Linked DNA regions of Homo sapiens: all the other regions are reported to be linked to region 3. Evidence: microRNA targets listed by miRTarBase, many of them from high-throughput screens and not tested one by one. Region 3 holds a microRNA gene; each other region holds the end of a gene's coding sequence.

Region 1 (3,000 bases), not on the chromosome of region 3:
CCGCCGGCTCCTTCAGCGGAAACCCTCGTGGGACACTGGAGGATGCATTGGACGCCTTCTGCCAGGTGGGCCAGCAGCCGCTCATTGCCGTGGCACTGCTGGGCAACATCAGCAGCATTGCCTTCTTCAACTTCGCAGGCATCAGCGTCACCAAGGAACTGAGCGCCACCACCCGCATGGTGTTGGACAGCTTGCGCACCGTTGTCATCTGGGCACTGAGCCTGGCACTGGGCTGGGAGGCCTTCCATGCACTGCAGATCCTTGGCTTCCTCATACTCCTTATAGGCACTGCCCTCTACAATGGGCTACACCGTCCGCTGCTGGGCCGCCTGTCCAGGGGCCGGCCCCTGGCAGAGGAGAGCGAGCAGGAGAGACTGCTGGGTGGCACCCGCACTCCCATCAATGATGCCAGCTGAGGTTCCCTGGAGGCTTCTACTGCCACCCGGGTGCTCCTTCTCCCTGAGACTGAGGCCACACAGGCTGGTGGGCCCCGAATGCCCTATCCCCAAGGCCTCACCCTGTCCCCTCCCTGCAGAACCCCCAGGGCAGCTGCTGCCACAGAAGATAACAACACCCAAGTCCTCTTTTTCTCACTACCACCTGCAGGGTGGTGTTACCCAGCCCCCACAAGCCTGAGTGCAGTGGCAGACCTCAGCTCTCTGGACCCCTCCTACAGCACTAGAGCTAAATCATGAAGTTGAATTGTAGGAATTTACCACCGTAGTGTATCTGAATCATAAACTAGATTATCATAGTTATCTAGTTTATGAGTCATAAGCTAGATTTGATTCTTCAAAGAAGAAAAGTCAGTGAGCAAATTTAAACCAGAACTAAGCATTATATTTTCTTTTTTTTTTTTTGAGACAGAGTCTCGCTCTGTCGCCCAGGCTGGAGTGCAGTGGCACGATCTCGGCGGCTCACTACAACCTCTGCCTCCCAGGTTCAAATGATTCTCCTGCCTCAGCCTCCCGAGTAGCTGGGATTACAGGTGCATAACACACCTGGGTAACTTTTATAGAGATGGGGTTTCACCATGTTGGCCAGGCTGGTCTCAAACTCCTGACCTCAGGTGATCTGCCTGCCTCGGCCTCCCAAAGTGCTGGGATTACAGGCGTGAGACACCACACCCAGCCATAACTAAGCATTATGTTTTCTAAAACTTCTAAGATCCTCCCTAAACCCGTCTGGAGACATGGGTTTTAGCCCAGACTCTGCCTCAAACTCATTGTAGCTCCCAGCACATTACCCAGTTGCTCTGGGCCTTGGTGTTATGCTCTGGGAAGTAGATGTTGATGCTGTGGCCTTAGTGCCTTCTGGCCCCAGCATTCCATGGGCCTGTGATCTTGACCAACCTGAGAAAACAGTAACAGCCCATCCACTGGAAATACCCCTCTGCCCACAGCACCACCCTTCTGTGCTGTTTTTTTTGTTGTTTGTTTGTTTCTTCTTTTTGAGACAGAGTCTTGCTCTGTTGCCACGCTGGAGTGCAGTGGTGTGATCTCGGCTCACTGCAACCTCCCGCTCCCAGGTTCAAGCAAGTCCCCTGAGTAGCTGGGACTACAGGCGTGTGCCACCACATCCGGCTAATTTTTTGCATTCTTTAATAGAGACGGGGTTTTGCCATGTTGGCCAGGATGGTCTCAATCTCCTGACCTCATGATCCACCTGCCTCAGCCTCCCAAAGTGCTGGGGTTACAGGCATGAGCCACCACGCCCAGCCTTTTTTTTTTTTTTTTTTTTTTCTTGAGAGACAGGGTCTTGCTCTGTCACCCAGGCACAGCTTACTGCAGCCTTGAACTCCTGGGATCAATCAGTCCTCCTGCCTCAGCCTCCCGAGTAGCTAAGACTAACAGGTATGTACCACCATGCCTGGTTTATTGTTTTATTTTTTTGGCAGAGATGGGTCTCACTGTGTTGCCCAGGCTGATCTCAAACTCCTGGCCTCAAGCGATCCTCCCATCTCAGCCTCCCAAAGTGCTGGGATTACAGACCTGAGCCACCACACCTGGGCAACAGAGTGAAACCTGTCCCTGTTTTCCTGCTCTTACTCTCACCTCTGAGGCCTCCTCTGCCTGGAAGAGATTACAGGGAAATTCCAGGCAGCCCTTGTCAATTGTTTTTATGAATTCTTTACCTGTTCCTTTTAAAGACAAGGAAACTGAGGCCCAAAGTTCTAAGTTGTTTGGCAAATGGAGTCTCCTACCCTCAGCTCCTGCAAGGACCTGGGGGACCCCCAGGTCCAGCAGCCACATGATTCTGCAGCAGACAGGGACCTAGAGCACATCTGGATCTCAGCCCCACCCCTGGCAACCTGCCTGCCTAGAGAACTCCCAAGATGACAGACTAAGTAGGATTCTGCCATTTAGAATAATTCTGGTATCCTGGGCGTTGCGTTAAGTTGCTTAACTTTCATTCTGTCTTACGATAGTCTTCAGAGGTGGGAACAGATGAAGAAACCATGCCCCAGAGAAGGTTAAGTGACTTCCTCTTTATGGAGCCAGTGTTCCAACCTAGGTTTGCCTGATACCAGACCTGTGGCCCCACCTCCCATGCAGGTCTCTGTGGGGTCTTTGGGATGGATCTCCTAGGGCTGGGCTGGAAGCCTCATGTACTGTTGTCTTCTAGGTAACCACCCTGAAGAGAAGGGGTGGCATCAGGAACCGCAGGGAACCAAGCAGCCTTTGGTCCAGTGCTGCTCCTTGGAACAGTTGAGTGTGGCCTCAAACCATTCTCCTGGGTAGCTCAGTCATAAAACACCGAATGCCTGCCTCAAAATAGCCTCTGAGGGAAGGGAGCTGTTGACAAGTGAAGCCCTCAGGTTGTGTGGGATTCCAGCAGGTTATTACAGCTTGTGGGGGGAGGGAGGGTCCATTCCACCAGCTTTGAATCCCAGGGTCCCCTCAGCTTCACTGGGCCACAGTGTCTGTCCCAGGAAGAAGCAAATGGACAGTGAGGATGATGGAGAGACTACAGCTGCCTTGTCTAAAACCTGGGATCTTA
Region 2 (3,000 bases), not on the chromosome of region 3:
AGCACCTGGCCCCTGAACAAATTCTTTAAGTCATATTAGCACCTGCTGCACGCCGGCACTGTGGAAGGAGGATGCTTGCTTGCTTCCTGGTAACCAGCTCTCTTATCTCAAACCTCAATCCTCAGTGAGGATCACAGGATCTGAGAAAGGCACCTTGGCCTGGAAACAGCCCCAGATGAGTGAGATTGCTGGTCCTCTCCCGGGATCCCAGGCCCAGGAAAACCTAGCCATGCTTGCAGTCAGGAGAGGGCAGGGGATAGAGCCCTGGCTCCCATTCAACCTCCTTAGCCAGGAGGACATGTCCCATTTTGCTTAGGAGTTGGGAGGTACCCTAGAATCACTTAGCTTCAGATGCCAAATTCCATCCACATTCTTTCCTCCAACTCTCTGGCAGTGGGGAACTGCCTCTCCAGGCAGGGAACTGCTCTGACAGGTCTGATGACTGCCTCCAGGAGGAAGCCCTGGGCACCAATGAAGGTGAGGGGCTGGAGGGCCCAGGACGGGGAGTCAAGGTCCCCACTCCCAGGACTAAGGGACAGTTTGGCTCCTTTTTCCTGCAGTGGGAGGGGTGAGAAGGGCTGGGGTGTTCTGCAAGGGCCTGCTCCATTTTCCAGGGTGAAGGAGAGGCCGAGGGAGGTGGAGCGGGAGGAGGTGGGGCTTACTGTGAAACTGGGTCAAGATGGCCTCGGATTTGAGCAGGCAGGGTCACCAGGCTCTGAGGCAGCAGCTGTGAGCAGTGCCGAGGGAGGACCAGCTCTGACGGTGAGGTCGGGTGGGGGACTAGAATCCAGCAGAGGAGCGAGGGCAGGGCTCCTACCAGGAAACCCATAGCATTGACACTAACTGAGAGGCAGCAAAGGCGGTGACACTCCCCCAGGCTCTGTGGGCCCAGCCCTACCCCTGAAGCACAGTTAACTGGTTCTGGGGTAGGAACTGGGGGCCGGAGGGACAGGGTTCTGGTTCTGGCTCAACCTTGGCTGCTGGTGAGATCCAGGGCCTGGGAAAGAGGGGCTGAGGCCTGAACTGGGCCTAAGGAGAGTGCAGCTCAGTTCGCACACAACAGCACCCAGCCCTGTCCCCTTGCTGCCTCTACCCAGCCCTGGGCAGTTCCCTCAACAGAGCTCTGCAGCCCCAAGTGGCAGCTGCTGGCTCAAAGCTGGGACTACATGAAAGTCTGAAAAGAGAATGAGAAGGAGGTGGCGCAAGAGCCTGGACGCACGTGTGGGAGGCCGTTTTGTGCAGCGCCATTGTGCTCCCCGGGCGGGCATGTGCTCGCGCTCCGTGGCTCTGTTGGTGCCCAGCGTGCGGGGGTGTGCTGGTGGCCCTGTGGGCCTGTAGGGCAACCCATGCCAACTGCGGAAAAGTAACCAGCACCATACACCCCCCCCAACACAAAACTGGTCATTTATTTTTTTTGTTGTCATTGTTATTAGGAAGCAAAAAAATGTACAGTTACAAGAATCATTTTCCAAACAGAGGTTAAATATGAGCTGAAAAGTGTAAAAAAGGAAGAGGAACATCACTTTACAAATCATTAAATTAAACAAATAAACAAACAGAACCCAAAGAACCAACCCCCCATGCTGAGTTCTCTCCTTGTGCAACTCTGCAAAATGAGAACAGAAAATGAAGTGGGCCGTGGAGGTGGGGGCCCTGGGGAGGGGCGGGAGCTGGGAGCCAGGAACAGGCAGGAGGGGGCTGCTGGGGCATGGACGCTGGCTTTCTGCCCCGTGTGCCTGGTGGTTTCTGGTACCTGGTCGTCGTACCTGGTGGCTCTACCCAGGCTGGGGGTCGAGGGGAGGGGCCCCCAGAGGCCCCTGCCAGCCTGTGGCATTCAAGCACTGCCAGGACAAGCCAGATTGGGCGGTGGAAACACACGGGACAGGGAGGCGGCCACCAGTGCCCAGGCTGGTACCTGCCGCAGGTGCCAGCCTGCACCTCTTCTGATCTGAACTTGCCCCAAGTCCACCTGCGTCTCCCTCCTTCTCTCCAGACTGCCCCCTCCCAGATCCTGAAAGGCCCCTGCAGCATCAAATGGTTGATTTTAGTCTTTGCTTAAATTAAAAAATTAAAATATATATACATATATATACTGTACACACAGGACAATAACAGAGAGTGTTGAAAAGGGAGGTACAAGAGCGGGCCGGGGAAAAGCCAGGGGCGGGGGCTGTGGCCCAGGGCTGCTGGGAGGGAGGCAGGGCTGGGTGATGGGACAAAGGCAGCGGGGAAGGGTGAGAAGTTAGGGGACCAGAATGGGGGGCAATTTATTTTACAATAAAAACAGGAGTTCAAACCTCAGCAGAACAGGACTCTGGGGTCCCCAGAGGGCCCTCCTCACACTGGGTGAGGAGGGGTGGGCTTAGGGGGACGACAGGGGTGGGCGGGGAGCTCGGCTTCAGGTTTAGATGATGACGGTCCCTGGTCTGAGGGAGAAGGGCTGGAGTCTCAGCTTCTCCGTGACTTCGAGTGTTGAATAAGCCACTGTAGGGTGATGTCTGATAGGAGAAAAGAGAACAGCTTATAAGGCCTGCAAGTACTGGCCGTGCTGGGGCAGCAGAGAGGCCCAAGAAACCAAACCTAAGGGTATCAGAAGTCCAGAGATGCCAGGAGGGGTGGCGCACACCTGGAGTCTCAGCTACATGGGAAGCTCAGGTGAGAGGATTGCTTGAACCCAGGAGTGGAGTTGGAGGCTGCAGTGAGCTATGGTCACGCCACTGAACTCCAGCCTGGGTGACAGAGCGAGACACTTTCTCAAAAACAAACAAGAAGTCCAGAGCTGGCAAGCGCCACATGGCCCTGAATGAGTAGTAGCGGAATTCAGGTGCTGGGAAAGAGACAGAGCCACAGCATGTCAGAGCCAGCAGGGACCTGAGAATCACCGGGTCCAGCCCTGGAATCTTAGAAACGAGGAGGTGAAGCCCAGAGCGGGGATCGATTTGCCCGAGATCACACAACCGCTTGGCGACAAGCTGGGATAGTGCCCAGAATCTGGGCCAC
Region 3 (4,186 bases):
GGCCCAGGCCCTGGCTCTGTAACCATTAACCTCTTCCCCCAACTAACACCAATGAAAACACCATTCCACGTGACTGGGCTGTGTGTTTGCCTCTGTGACATGGGGACCCCTGACCCTAGGGGTCTCGCCTGAGCCAGACCTGAGGGACCCACCCGCGTAGATGGAGGAAGGTTTAGGCCTCCCTTTGCCAGCCACCGCCGGGGGTGGGCAGACCCTGGAGTGGCCTTACAGACCAGCCACAGGTATTTCTTAGCAATTGACACATTTTAATACAAACCAGTCTACATTCATTCCTAAAAGGCTCATTTCCAGTAAAAAATATACACCAGTAGAAACTTCTCCCAGAACTGGGGCAGAGGCTGAGGAGACCTGGGCCAGATTCCCCAAGACTGACAGGCAGCCAGCTTGAGCCAGGCACAGGAAGAGGCTCCAGGGCGAAGCGGGGGCCCTGCTCCATCTTCAGGTTCAGGCGGGAGACTCCCCCACAGAGGGAGGGAGGGGAGGCACTCGGGGCCACATCCAGGCAAGCACCACCCCCCTGCCCTCCACGGCAGCCTTGGGAGTTGGACGCGTCGGCCAAGGCTGCTGCTGTTGCTCCTCCAAAGAAGGTTGGCTTCAAGGCCGTGTCCAGGGACCCACGAGCAGAGGCACTGGGGGGCAAGGGATCTCCAAGGGGGCAAGGGATCCCTAAAGGGGGTAGCTCACAGGTGAGGGGGTTTAGGGCCCCTCTAGGGAGCGCCTGAGGCCATACATTCAAGAGTGTCCCTGGTGAGGCCCAGGGAAGAGCCAGGACTGGCCAAGGGCCCAGGCCGTCAGCTCCTCCACAGTGAGCCCCAGGGCTCAGGAAGACAGCGGGGTCTGACACGGGGAGCTGGGTTTCCAGTGCCACGGGTGCAGGAGCAAACCTGGAAACATTCATGATACAAACTCCCCTGTTCAGAAATGGGTCTGGCTTTAGCCCCAGGGACGGGGGCAACTACAGCCACCACAGCCAGTGGCTCAGAAGGGAGAGTTCATGCCCAGCTTAGTTTCAAACTGCAGCTTCTGTCGCTTCTGGTAGCGGACTCGGACCCTGGTGGGGCAGGAGATTAAAGTACAGGTTGGCAAAGATCCTTAGACCAGGGGCCGGGGCAGGACACCAGAGGAGGAGGGAGGGATGGGCAGCGGAAAGGTGGGGGAGTGTCGCCAAGGGAGTAACAGGTTTAGGGAACATGCCTGAGCCCAGAGGGAGGCGCCCTGCTGACAGCTCACCGAATCTCATGTAGCTTCACGATCTCATTGGTCACCACCACAAGGACCAGGGACAGGCAGCCCAGGAGCCATGTCAGCAGGGGCACGTCCTCCAGGCCAAAGTGGACGTGGCTGTCCCTGTGTGTCCACAGCTGCAGGTCCACAGCCGTCTGGACCACCTGACCCAGCAGCCTGCAGGAGGTGGCGGCCCCGTGTGAACCCGACACTGCTTGCTTCCTTCCCTGCTCTTCCCAGTACAACAGTTAGCTCAGGCAGGGTACAGTTAAACCACTGGCCCCGGTCCCGCCCTCCGATCCTAGCCCTGCAGAAGGCCCTCTCCTCCCCAGCCCACACTCCGCCCTCCATCCTAGCAATACTCACACCACAGGCACTGTCACGGCCCACCAGAGGTTGGTCAAGGGGCTCTTTCTCCACAGGGGCTTGGTGCGATGCACATGGGTGATGGAAATGAAGACTGGGGAAGGTGGGGCGATGTGGGGGTCAGACTTCCACAGTGGGGCTCCTCTCCCACCATCATCCACGCCCTCCCAGGGAGCCCTCTCACCAGTGTGCAGGACAATCAGGGCGGCCGTGAGCTTCTGAGCCGACAGCAGTCCATTGGCAAAGTCCTCAAACCAGGCTGGAGCCCTGTCGTCGTTGCTGCCAAAGTGAGGCATGGGCTCAGCCCCTCTAGGGCCGCAGGGAGGTAGGCTGGGGTGGGGAGGGAGGAAGCCTCGAGGCGAGGCAGGCGATGGGTGGATCTCTGGGGCTGGGACCCACCTGGGCAGCATGACGGAGGAGCAGTTGGTGAGGTTGCGGTCCCGGGAGCTGTCACAGAAGCTCTGCAGTGTGAAGCCAAAGCAGATGAGGCAGGAGCTGATGGTGAGGCTGAACTTGAGCAGGAAGCAGAGCAGGAAGTAGTGCTGGGTCTGCGGGAACAAGGCCAGTCACTCCTGGGGCGCACAGCCCCTCTGCCGGCTGCTCCTAGCTCTTCCACGTATTCAACGGGCTCTTAGTAAATGGTCAGGCCTGGGGGGATAGGGAGCTCAAGCCCCAGCAAGGGTCTTTCCCAGCTCTGTGCCACTACCTCCTCTTTGATCTGGGGGAAGACTAGGAACCAAGTGCCGGAGTTCTGCTGGAATCCCCCATCCAGAGCCTTCCAGATTAGCCCCTCTCTCCTCCCCCAATCCTCAGTCCCTTCCATGCTCACTTGCAAGGCTCACAGGGTCTGTTTTGCTTACCTTCTTGGGAATGGACTGGAGGTTTTTCCCCGTTGCCATAGACATGATGGAGCTATGGGGGGGCTTCCCCAGCAGAGAGATGCTGAAAAGCAGAGATCAGGTAGAGGGATGGTGACAATGACCCTCTGTCCCTCAATTCTCATAGAGGGAACCTCTAGGGAGTCTTGCGCGTGAGGTCGAGTCTGGTGAGGGGATGGAATAAAACAAAGGCTGGACGGCAGTGGCTCACACCTGTAATCCCAGCACTTTGGGAGGCTGAGATGGGCAGATCATTTGAGGTCAGGAGTTCAAAACCAGCCTCGCCAACATGGCAAAAACCCATCTCTACTAAAAATACAAAAATTAGCCAGGCATGATAGTGGGTGCCTGTAATCCCAGCTACTCAGGGGGCTGAGGCAGGAGAATCACTTGAGCCCGGGAGGCGGAGGTTGCAATGAGCAGAGATTGCACCATTGCACTCCAGCCTGGGTGACAGAGCGAGACTCCATCTCAAAAAAAAAAAAAAAAAAAAAAAAAAAGACAAAGGGGGTTCCCTCCATGCCTCCTGTACCAGAGGAGGTGAGACCTGAGCAGTTCCAGAACCTTGGGCTCCTGGGGCTGCACAGTGACATCCAGACACCTCCTGCTTAGGCATGGGGTGTGGGGAAGATACATGGCATCTCACCTGAGCAGAGGGTAGCAAAAGCAGGACAGCCACAGGATGTCGGTGGTACTCAGGAGTGGCGGCAGCTGGACCAGGCAAGAAAGGAACTAGACCAGGAAAGAAGCCAAGAGCCACAGTTCAATTCAGGCAAATAATAAGGGCATAGGAGCCCCCGAGCTCCCTTGCCCTGGGCCCAGATAGATGCTCACATCCTGCCAGAGGGAACAGGGGCCGGAGGGAATACTCTTCTGCCAATGAGGGTCAGCTCAAAAAGCCCAGGGGCTTCACAGAGGCTCTGGGGGGACCCCTTGACTGTACTGCTAACCCCAGCCTCCTTCCTCAGATTTTCAGCTGGCCCCTGAGTGAAGGGGTGAGTGGCACGGGGGCAATGCCTGTGCGGGCCCCACCTCACCTGGATGACCACAAGAGTCAGCTGGCACTGCAGCAGGAAGAGGAAGCACTTACGGATGCCATAGGTGGCATGCCGAGCCTAGGGACCAAGAGGGACAGATTATGGCCTGGGTCTACCTGGCCTCTCCCAGGCCCAACAGCTGACACACTTTAGCCAAGAGCCAGACGCCCAGGATGCTTCTACGAGGGGAGCAGAGGCGAATGTAACTGCCTGGGAGAGCCCGCTCGGAGGGCTGGGGAATGAGGTCCCCGGGTTCAAACAGGTCCTTTGCTGCTACTCCCACCCCAGGCGGGTCCTGTCCTGCGTCTCTCCTCCTTTGCCTGCCGAAGCACCCACCTGTTCGATAAGCCGGATGATGCTGATGGTCTCCTCCTGGCGAAAGGTCAGGGAACAGGGCAGGCTGTTGAGCTGCCCTGACAGCTGCAGGGGAGAAAGGCCATCCGAGGCCTGGGCCATGCTGATGCTGGTGGCGTAGCCAAAGGTCTCCCAGGAGCAACGGGATGGGTACAGGGGATCCAGGGCAATGCTGCTCAGGGTGGGGGACACACACACTTCAGCTGTATCTCCCACAGGACTGGGCACCCCACCCTCTTCTCCCACCATGCCCAGGTGCATTGGTCCCAGCCAGGGCGAGGTCGGCTATAGTACACACCCCCAGCC
Region 4 (3,000 bases), not on the chromosome of region 3:
GAGTTCAGGTCCTTCTGTCTTGGACTTAAGAATGCAGCCCCCAGCCCTGGTCTCCCTGGGACACTGACATCTGACACCCCAGGCCCCATGCCCCAGCCCCTTCCCTCCCCAGAGGCCGGTGTGCCACCCTCCCCAGTGCCATGTTTGACCCCTGCAGACCCTGGCCATCGAGGGCGGCGCCGAGGACCTGGGCCAGGAGGAGGTGGTCCAGCAGTGCATGCGGAACCAGCCGTGGCTGGAACAGCTCTTTGACTCCTTCAGTGACCTGCTGGCCCAAGCACAGGCCCACAGCCGCTGCGGGTGACCCCGCCCCAGCTTGTGAGGGGGGCGCCTCCTCCATGAACCGAGAATTGGGACAGAACCGTGTCCTCAGGAGCTAACACCTGGGCTCCATCGCCGGGGAAAGGGGGTCATGGGTCAGGGTGTGTCTGTGCTGCCCCCTCCAGGGCAGGGTTCAAAGTCCGACTCCCCCCCTCTCCCAAGCCCCCTCCACTCCCTCCCCATTCCTCCCACTGTTCGGTGTACAGAGAAATTATTTATATATATGTATAAATGTCTATTTAGTAACGGTTTCCCTCTCCCCTTGCCCCGACCCCCCCTCCACAGCCACAGCCCCCGCCCCCTCCACCTTGTACATAATGTATAGGAAAAGTCTATGTATGGCTGGGGGGGGTGGGGTGGCTTCAGAGAGCTGGGGGACCCCTTCCCCCCAAGTCCCCCCTGCAGGCCAAGATCTTTGCTAAAGGCCATTCCCTCCGCAGGGCATTTGGCGTCGGGTGGGAGGGGAAAACGCATCTTGTTAATTATTTTTAATCTTATTTATTGTACATACCTGGGGCAGGGGCTTGGGGAGGTGGAGGGGGGAGAAGGGTCCCCTCTCTCTGCCCCTCCCACTCCTTTTCTACGGCGATTTGTCTGTGTCTGGCCCCCACCCACTGCCCATCCCCCATTGTTGTCTGGATGTGGTTCTATTTTTTATCGGTCTCCTTTCCCCTCCTCCCCGTTCTCGCCCCCGCCCCACCCCCTGCTCCCACTACCCTTTGTCTCTTGCTCTTTCTTGGGCTTCTGTACAACTCAACTTGTATACACTGTGTACACACAACCAGCCAAACGAAAACCCAACGGCAAACACTTTACCGGCAGGCTGGAGTGCCTCTGTCCTGCGGCGCTGGAGTGGGTGGCAGTGGTAGCAGGGGCAGAGGTTCTGGAACGGGACTTTCCCAGAGCCCTGGGCAGTGGGGGGCCTGAGGCTGGCATATGTTCTGTGTCCCCGCACAGCAGAGTATCCCACCCTGAAATTTAATGACTTCAGACAACAAATATTTATCACTGGGGGGTTTCTTTTGTTTTTTAGCTAAAGACAGGGTCTCGCTCTGTCACCTAGGCTGGAGTGCAGTGGCATGATCATAGCTCACTGCAGCCTCCAACTCCCTGGCTCAAGCGATCCTCCTGCCTCAGCCTCCCAAAGTGACGGGATTACAGGCAAGTGCCACTGTGCCTGGCCCTGTGTTCTTTATGTTACCCAGGCTGGCCTTGAACTTCTGGGCTTAAAAGATCCTCCTGCCCCAGTCTCAAGTAGTTGGCATTACGGGTGCATGCCACTACACCCAGTTCAAATCCTGTAGTGTTTTGTTTTGGTTTTTTTTTTTGAGACAGAGTCTCGCTCTGTCACCCAGCCTGGAGTGCAGTGGTTCGATCTTGGCTCATGCAACCTCAGCCTCCCCGGTTCAAGCGATTCTCCTGCCTCAGCCTCCCAAGTAGCTGGGATTACAGGGGCCTACCACTACATCCAGCAAATTTTTGTATTTTTAGTAGAAACCAGGTTTCACCATGTCGGCCAGGCTGGTCTCGAACTCCTGACCTCAAGTGATCCGCCAGCCTCAGCCTTCCAAAGAGATTACAGGTGTGAGCCACTGCGCCCGGCCTCAAGTCCTGTATTCTTGAATCCAAGTGAGTGGTCCATGGTACAGCACTCTTGGAGTTCCCCAAGCACTTGTATAAATGTAGAATCGGCACAGGCAGCAGACGAGGAGAGGGCAGGTTGAATAGGGCTGTTTCTCCTCCTCCCACCCTTAAAGGAAAAGATGTAGAATCTCAGGCTGTTGCTCTGGTCTACTTGATCAGAACCCACTTTTTAGTAAAATGCCGAGAGGATTCTCAAGCACATTCAAGTTTGAAGAACCGTGTTCTAGAACAAGAATGTTAAAAATGTGCAGGTTGGCTGGGCACGGTGGCTCACGGCTATAATCCCAGCACTGTGGGAGGCCGGGGCGGGGGGATCACTTGAGGTCAGGAGTTCGAGACCGGCCTGACCAACATGGTGAAACCCCGTCTCTACTAAAAATACAAAAATCAGCCAGGCGTGGTGGCGTGCGTCTATAATCCCAGCTACATGGGAGGCTGAGGCTGAGGCAGGAGAATCGCTTGAATCCAGGGGGCGGAGGTTGCAGTGAGTTGAGATCGTGCCATTGCACCACTCCAGCCTGGCTGACAGAGCGAGACTCCATCTCAAAAAATAAAAAATGTGGAGGTCAACTGGCAATATTTTAGAACCCAGTCTATGAAGCAGTGAACAGGCTGTTGTCATTCTAGAGCCTGGATGGATGGACCACTGGTGTTCCAGAACCCTGGCTTAGTCCGTGGGTAGGGACCCAGTGTGAGATTTGAGGGTGGAACATCAGCATTCCAGATGCCCTTTTAGGTGAGATTCAGGGAGAACCCTCATCGTTCTAGAACCTTGAGTATTGTTCCAGGGGTGTCCAAGGAGAGAATACAGTCATGGGTTCTTAGTTTCTGTTGTACCAGTAAAGCCCCTTCCTCATCCCTCTTTTTTGTTTATTACTAGAGACAGAAACTAAAAACCATGGCTTCAGGCTGCTAAAAGCCTAAAACAAAACAGAACAACAACAAAATAAGGTGGGTTGGACAAATCTGGACTCTAGACCATCACATGTTACAGATTTTTTTTTTTTTTTTTTTTTTTTTGACGGAATCTCGATC
Region 5 (3,000 bases), not on the chromosome of region 3:
CCCCGACACATGTGCAGGCCATGACTGCTCCCTGCGTCTCTGGAGCCTGGACAACAAAACGTGCGTGCAGGAGATCACGGCCCACCGCAAGAAGCACGAGGAGGCCATCCACGCTGTTGCCTGCCACCCCAGCAAGGCCCTCATTGCCAGTGCTGGCGCTGATGCCCTGGCCAAGGTCTTCGTATGATGCCCACCTGGCCCTGCCCTGGCCGCCACGCTGGCTGGGGTGTAGGGCCGGGCAGGTGGGGCTGAGGTGAGGGCAGAAACCCCGCATTCTGAGTCTCTGCACGCCCATGCCTAGTACTGCCAGGTGTGCTGAGCCCCGCAGTCCAGTCAGGGGCGTCCTGTGAGAATCACTGGGGGAGCCCTGGGCATGCAGGGGAGGGGTTGAGGCCTTAGAGGCGCCCTAGAGGCGGCGGCTCAGTCTCCCCTCCCTTCTCTTTCCCGCAGGGGACTCCCAGCCTCGCTGGAGGTGCAGAGGCCTGGCCTCTGTCTGTTTGCCATGGAGCCTGGTGGTGCTAACGGCCCTTTCCCCAGGAATCCCTCCCCAACGGCTGCCTTCCCCAAGCATCCAGCCTGGGGATGGGCCCCTTTCAGGAATCACCCCCGAGGATGGCCTCGGGGTTTCCCCCTGTGCCCTGACAGCCGCTCCTGGTATCAGAGCTGCTTTCCAGAGGGCAGCACAGCCAGGGCCGGGTGTCTTTAGGGATCAGTTTTTCCAAGACTCCAGAAGGTGCCAGGTTCTCCCCTTGAGCTCCTGCTCCCCCATCCCCCATCCTCCCAGACCTGGGCAGGAGCTGTGCTGGGAGAAAGGGTGGCAGCCGGGAGCCTCAGAGCTGAGCCCCGGCCTGGCTGCCCCTCCCCTCCGGCCCTCTCCACTGCTTTCCAGACACTAACCAAGGCTTCCAGGCCAGGGATTGCCCAACACTCCTAGGGCAGCCCTCCCAGCGCCCCATGGGGTCGCCCATGGGTAGAGACGGCTTTCTTGTGCCCCTCCCTGGGGCATGGAGGGTGGAGTGGGCCTCGGGTCCCCCTGAACTCCCTGTATATCTGTATAAATAACGGGATTTTCATGGCGCCGCCCCACCCGCATTATCACTGTGTGATGGTCTCAGTCAGTCTCCTCCCTGTCTCCACTCTTTCCCTCTATTTATTTCACTCTCTTGTTTGGTTCTACCCTGCACCCTCGGTCCCCTTCCAGGTTCCTGTTTATAAGCCCCAACCCCTCTGTCCCCATCTTGTATGTGAAAACTTGTCTCAATAAACCCTTTGGAGTAAGATGGGTGACGGTGCCATCTGTTGAGGGCACTGGGGACTTTGGGGGAGGAGTGACCGGCTCTGCCTGGGTTGGGTGGAGTTTGGAGAGAGGGGATATGATGGGTTGGGGTTTTGTGGTAGGGCAGCAGGGGCCGGAGACGGGCCCAGAGCTTGGGTGGGGTGTGGGTGGAGAGAAGTGGAGGCACTGGACCGAATCTCCTTGTGCCCTTTCTGTCCCTAAGTGCTCCCTCCCCAGGGGTAGAGCCCTGGGGAGCAGATACTATGATGACAGTCCAGCTGAAGCCTCAGCCCCGCCTGGGATGTGTGAGGGTGGTGGCGAGGCCAAAGGGCTGGTGCCCAGAGGACGTAAACCCCCTTCCTGTTCCCATCCCAGGCCCACAAGGAGCAGGGAGGGAAAAGGCTGCACCTGCCAGTGGAGGATGATGGCTTTGGGGCGCAGGCTCCTCCATGCTGGGAGGAGGTGCCGCAGGTGCCCGAGCCCTCGTGGCTCATGTCCTGATGCGTCCCTCCTTTCCCTTCTCAGTGGTCCACGTCTACTGTACTGAGTGCTTTACATGGCATTTCACTGGGTCCACAGCCTTAAAAAGAGGGAGCAGGTGTCCACATGCTCCAGATGAGACGGAGGGGACCGCTGCTCCTGTCTCGAGGAGGCTTCCACCACCTACCAGCCAGGCGTCCTCGGTAATCCTAGCACCTCTGCCACAGGGCACTAATGCCCAGTTCCTGGGTTGTAAAGGGCTGTGCCCCAGTCCCCCAGCAGGCCCCAGTGAACATACGAGAAAGGATGGAGGCCGCTGTCTGGACACTCAGGACATGGCAGCGTTTTGCTGGGACAGTCATCTGCCCTTCAGGAAAAAGGGTGCAGGTGGGCAGGAGGCCCTTAGATGACGCCAAGGGGAGCCTTCGTGGGCTCCACGTGGTGTGCTCCCTGCCCATCCCTCTGGGCTCAATGCAGTTCCCCAGGTGGTGGTTTGGGTTTTCACTCCAGCCTCAGACTTCCTTCCTCAGCCCCAGCCCCCGGATGTGGTGACAGAATCGATACTGTACCGACCTCAGCTACCCCCAACGGCCGTACACCAGGAAGAGGGGCTCTTCTGGCAGCCCCCATCCTCAGCCAGCCCTGCCATTTCCAGTCCTGCCAGCATCCCAGCCAGACAGGTGGCCCTTCTCTTAGAGCTCAAACCTAGGCCTTGACTTGTCAATCAAAGGGGTGGGTGGGGCAGCTTCCCTCAAGCAACTTCACTCTGGGATCTTGGGCAAGACGTTTTGCTTCTCTGAGGCTTCAGCTTATTCTGTGTAAACTAAATGGTAGCCACTATTTGATTATTAGCTGGGGAGGAGAGATCAAGCCTGACCCCTGTAGCGGCTGGAGTTTTACAGCAGGGCCCACCCAGCACCCAGTAGGTCCTCACAGATACTTGCTGGGTGACTGAATGGGTGTGCCCACCCATCAAAGCCTGAGTGCTGGAGGTGGCCACCCCTTTCCGCGTATTATCAGAGACAACCACCTCTTACTGAACTGCTGCGTTTCCAGGCACCAGTATACCATGGCATCGGCTCCCACCATCCCATGTGGGGTCAGTCCTATTACAGTCCCAACAGATGGAGGGACTGAGGCTCACAGAGAAGCCACTCACCCAAAGTCACATGGAGAGAAAGACACGCACACGTACTCCACATCCCCAGGAGACACACTCTGCATCTATGAAGTGGTATGGGTGT

The links. Region 3 holds the annotated microRNA hsa-miR-6785-5p (UGGGAGGGCGUGGAUGAUGGUG, at 1,760-1,781, opposite strand). A microRNA usually pairs through its seed, bases 2 to 8, with sites in the 3' UTR of a target mRNA and lowers its output. Matches are read on the target gene's strand: a 7mer-m8 pairs with bases 2 to 8, a 7mer-A1 pairs with bases 2 to 7 and ends in A, and an 8mer does both.
Region 1: miRTarBase lists SLC35F6 as a target of hsa-miR-6785-5p. Seed matches in the 3' UTR shown: 7mer-m8 at 524-530, 7mer-A1 at 933-939, 7mer-A1 at 1,088-1,094, 7mer-A1 at 1,675-1,681, 7mer-A1 at 1,953-1,959, 7mer-A1 at 1,966-1,972 and 1 more.
Region 2: miRTarBase lists ARL8A as a target of hsa-miR-6785-5p. Seed matches in the 3' UTR shown: 8mer at 2,188-2,195, 7mer-m8 at 1,797-1,803 and 7mer-m8 at 1,657-1,663.
Region 4: miRTarBase lists PRR12 as a target of hsa-miR-6785-5p. Seed matches in the 3' UTR shown: 7mer-m8 at 495-501, 7mer-A1 at 506-512 and 8mer at 886-893.
Region 5: the mRNA of STRN4 is a reported target of hsa-miR-6785-5p. Seed matches in the 3' UTR shown: 7mer-m8 at 542-548, 7mer-A1 at 777-783, 7mer-m8 at 857-863, 8mer at 940-947 and 7mer-m8 at 992-998.

What each region holds. Positions count from the first base shown.
Region 1 is chr2:26,778,096-26,781,095 of GRCh38, forward strand. SLC35F6 (solute carrier family 35 member F6) reads left to right here. Exons shown (of 6, transcript NM_017877.4): 6 at 1-3,000. The coding sequence ends at 416. Among named protein-coding and RNA genes, the nearest start is that of CENPA, 6.5 kb to the right of the region's middle.
Region 2 is chr1:202,132,019-202,135,018 of GRCh38, forward strand. ARL8A (ARF like GTPase 8A) reads right to left here. Exons shown (of 7, transcript NM_138795.4): 7 at 1,386-2,498. The coding sequence ends at 2,449. It overlaps GPR37L1 (G protein-coupled receptor 37 like 1), which reads left to right. Exons shown (of 2, transcript NM_004767.5): 2 at 1-1,574. Among named protein-coding and RNA genes, the nearest start is that of GPR37L1, 11 kb to the left of the region's middle.
Region 3 is chr17:75,496,148-75,500,333 of GRCh38, reverse strand. MIR6785 (microRNA 6785) reads right to left here and starts at 1,786; the gene lies at 1,706-1,786. It overlaps TMEM94 (transmembrane protein 94), which reads right to left. Exons shown (of 32, transcript NM_014738.6): 24 at 3,863-4,052; 25 at 3,527-3,604; 26 at 3,136-3,221; 27 at 2,472-2,553; 28 at 2,011-2,159; 29 at 1,796-1,890; 30 at 1,612-1,705; 31 at 1,252-1,422; 32 at 1-1,072. The coding sequence ends at 1,000. It overlaps CASKIN2 (CASK interacting protein 2), which reads left to right. Exons shown (of 20, transcript NM_020753.5): 20 at 1-73.
Region 4 is chr19:49,625,304-49,628,303 of GRCh38, forward strand. PRR12 (proline rich 12) reads left to right here. Exons shown (of 14, transcript NM_020719.3): 14 at 158-1,136. The coding sequence ends at 304. Among named protein-coding and RNA genes, the nearest start is that of RRAS, 13 kb to the right of the region's middle.
Region 5 is chr19:46,717,789-46,720,788 of GRCh38, reverse strand. It overlaps STRN4 (striatin 4), which reads left to right. Exons shown (of 18, transcript NM_013403.3): 17 at 18-253; 18 at 451-1,278. The coding sequence ends at 187. LOC107987269 reads left to right here and starts at 1,067. Exons shown (of 4, transcript XM_017027568.2): 1 at 1,067-2,143; 2 at 2,287-2,436; 3 at 2,813-2,990. The coding sequence starts at 1,726. RefSeq lists an enhancer at 2,380-2,429.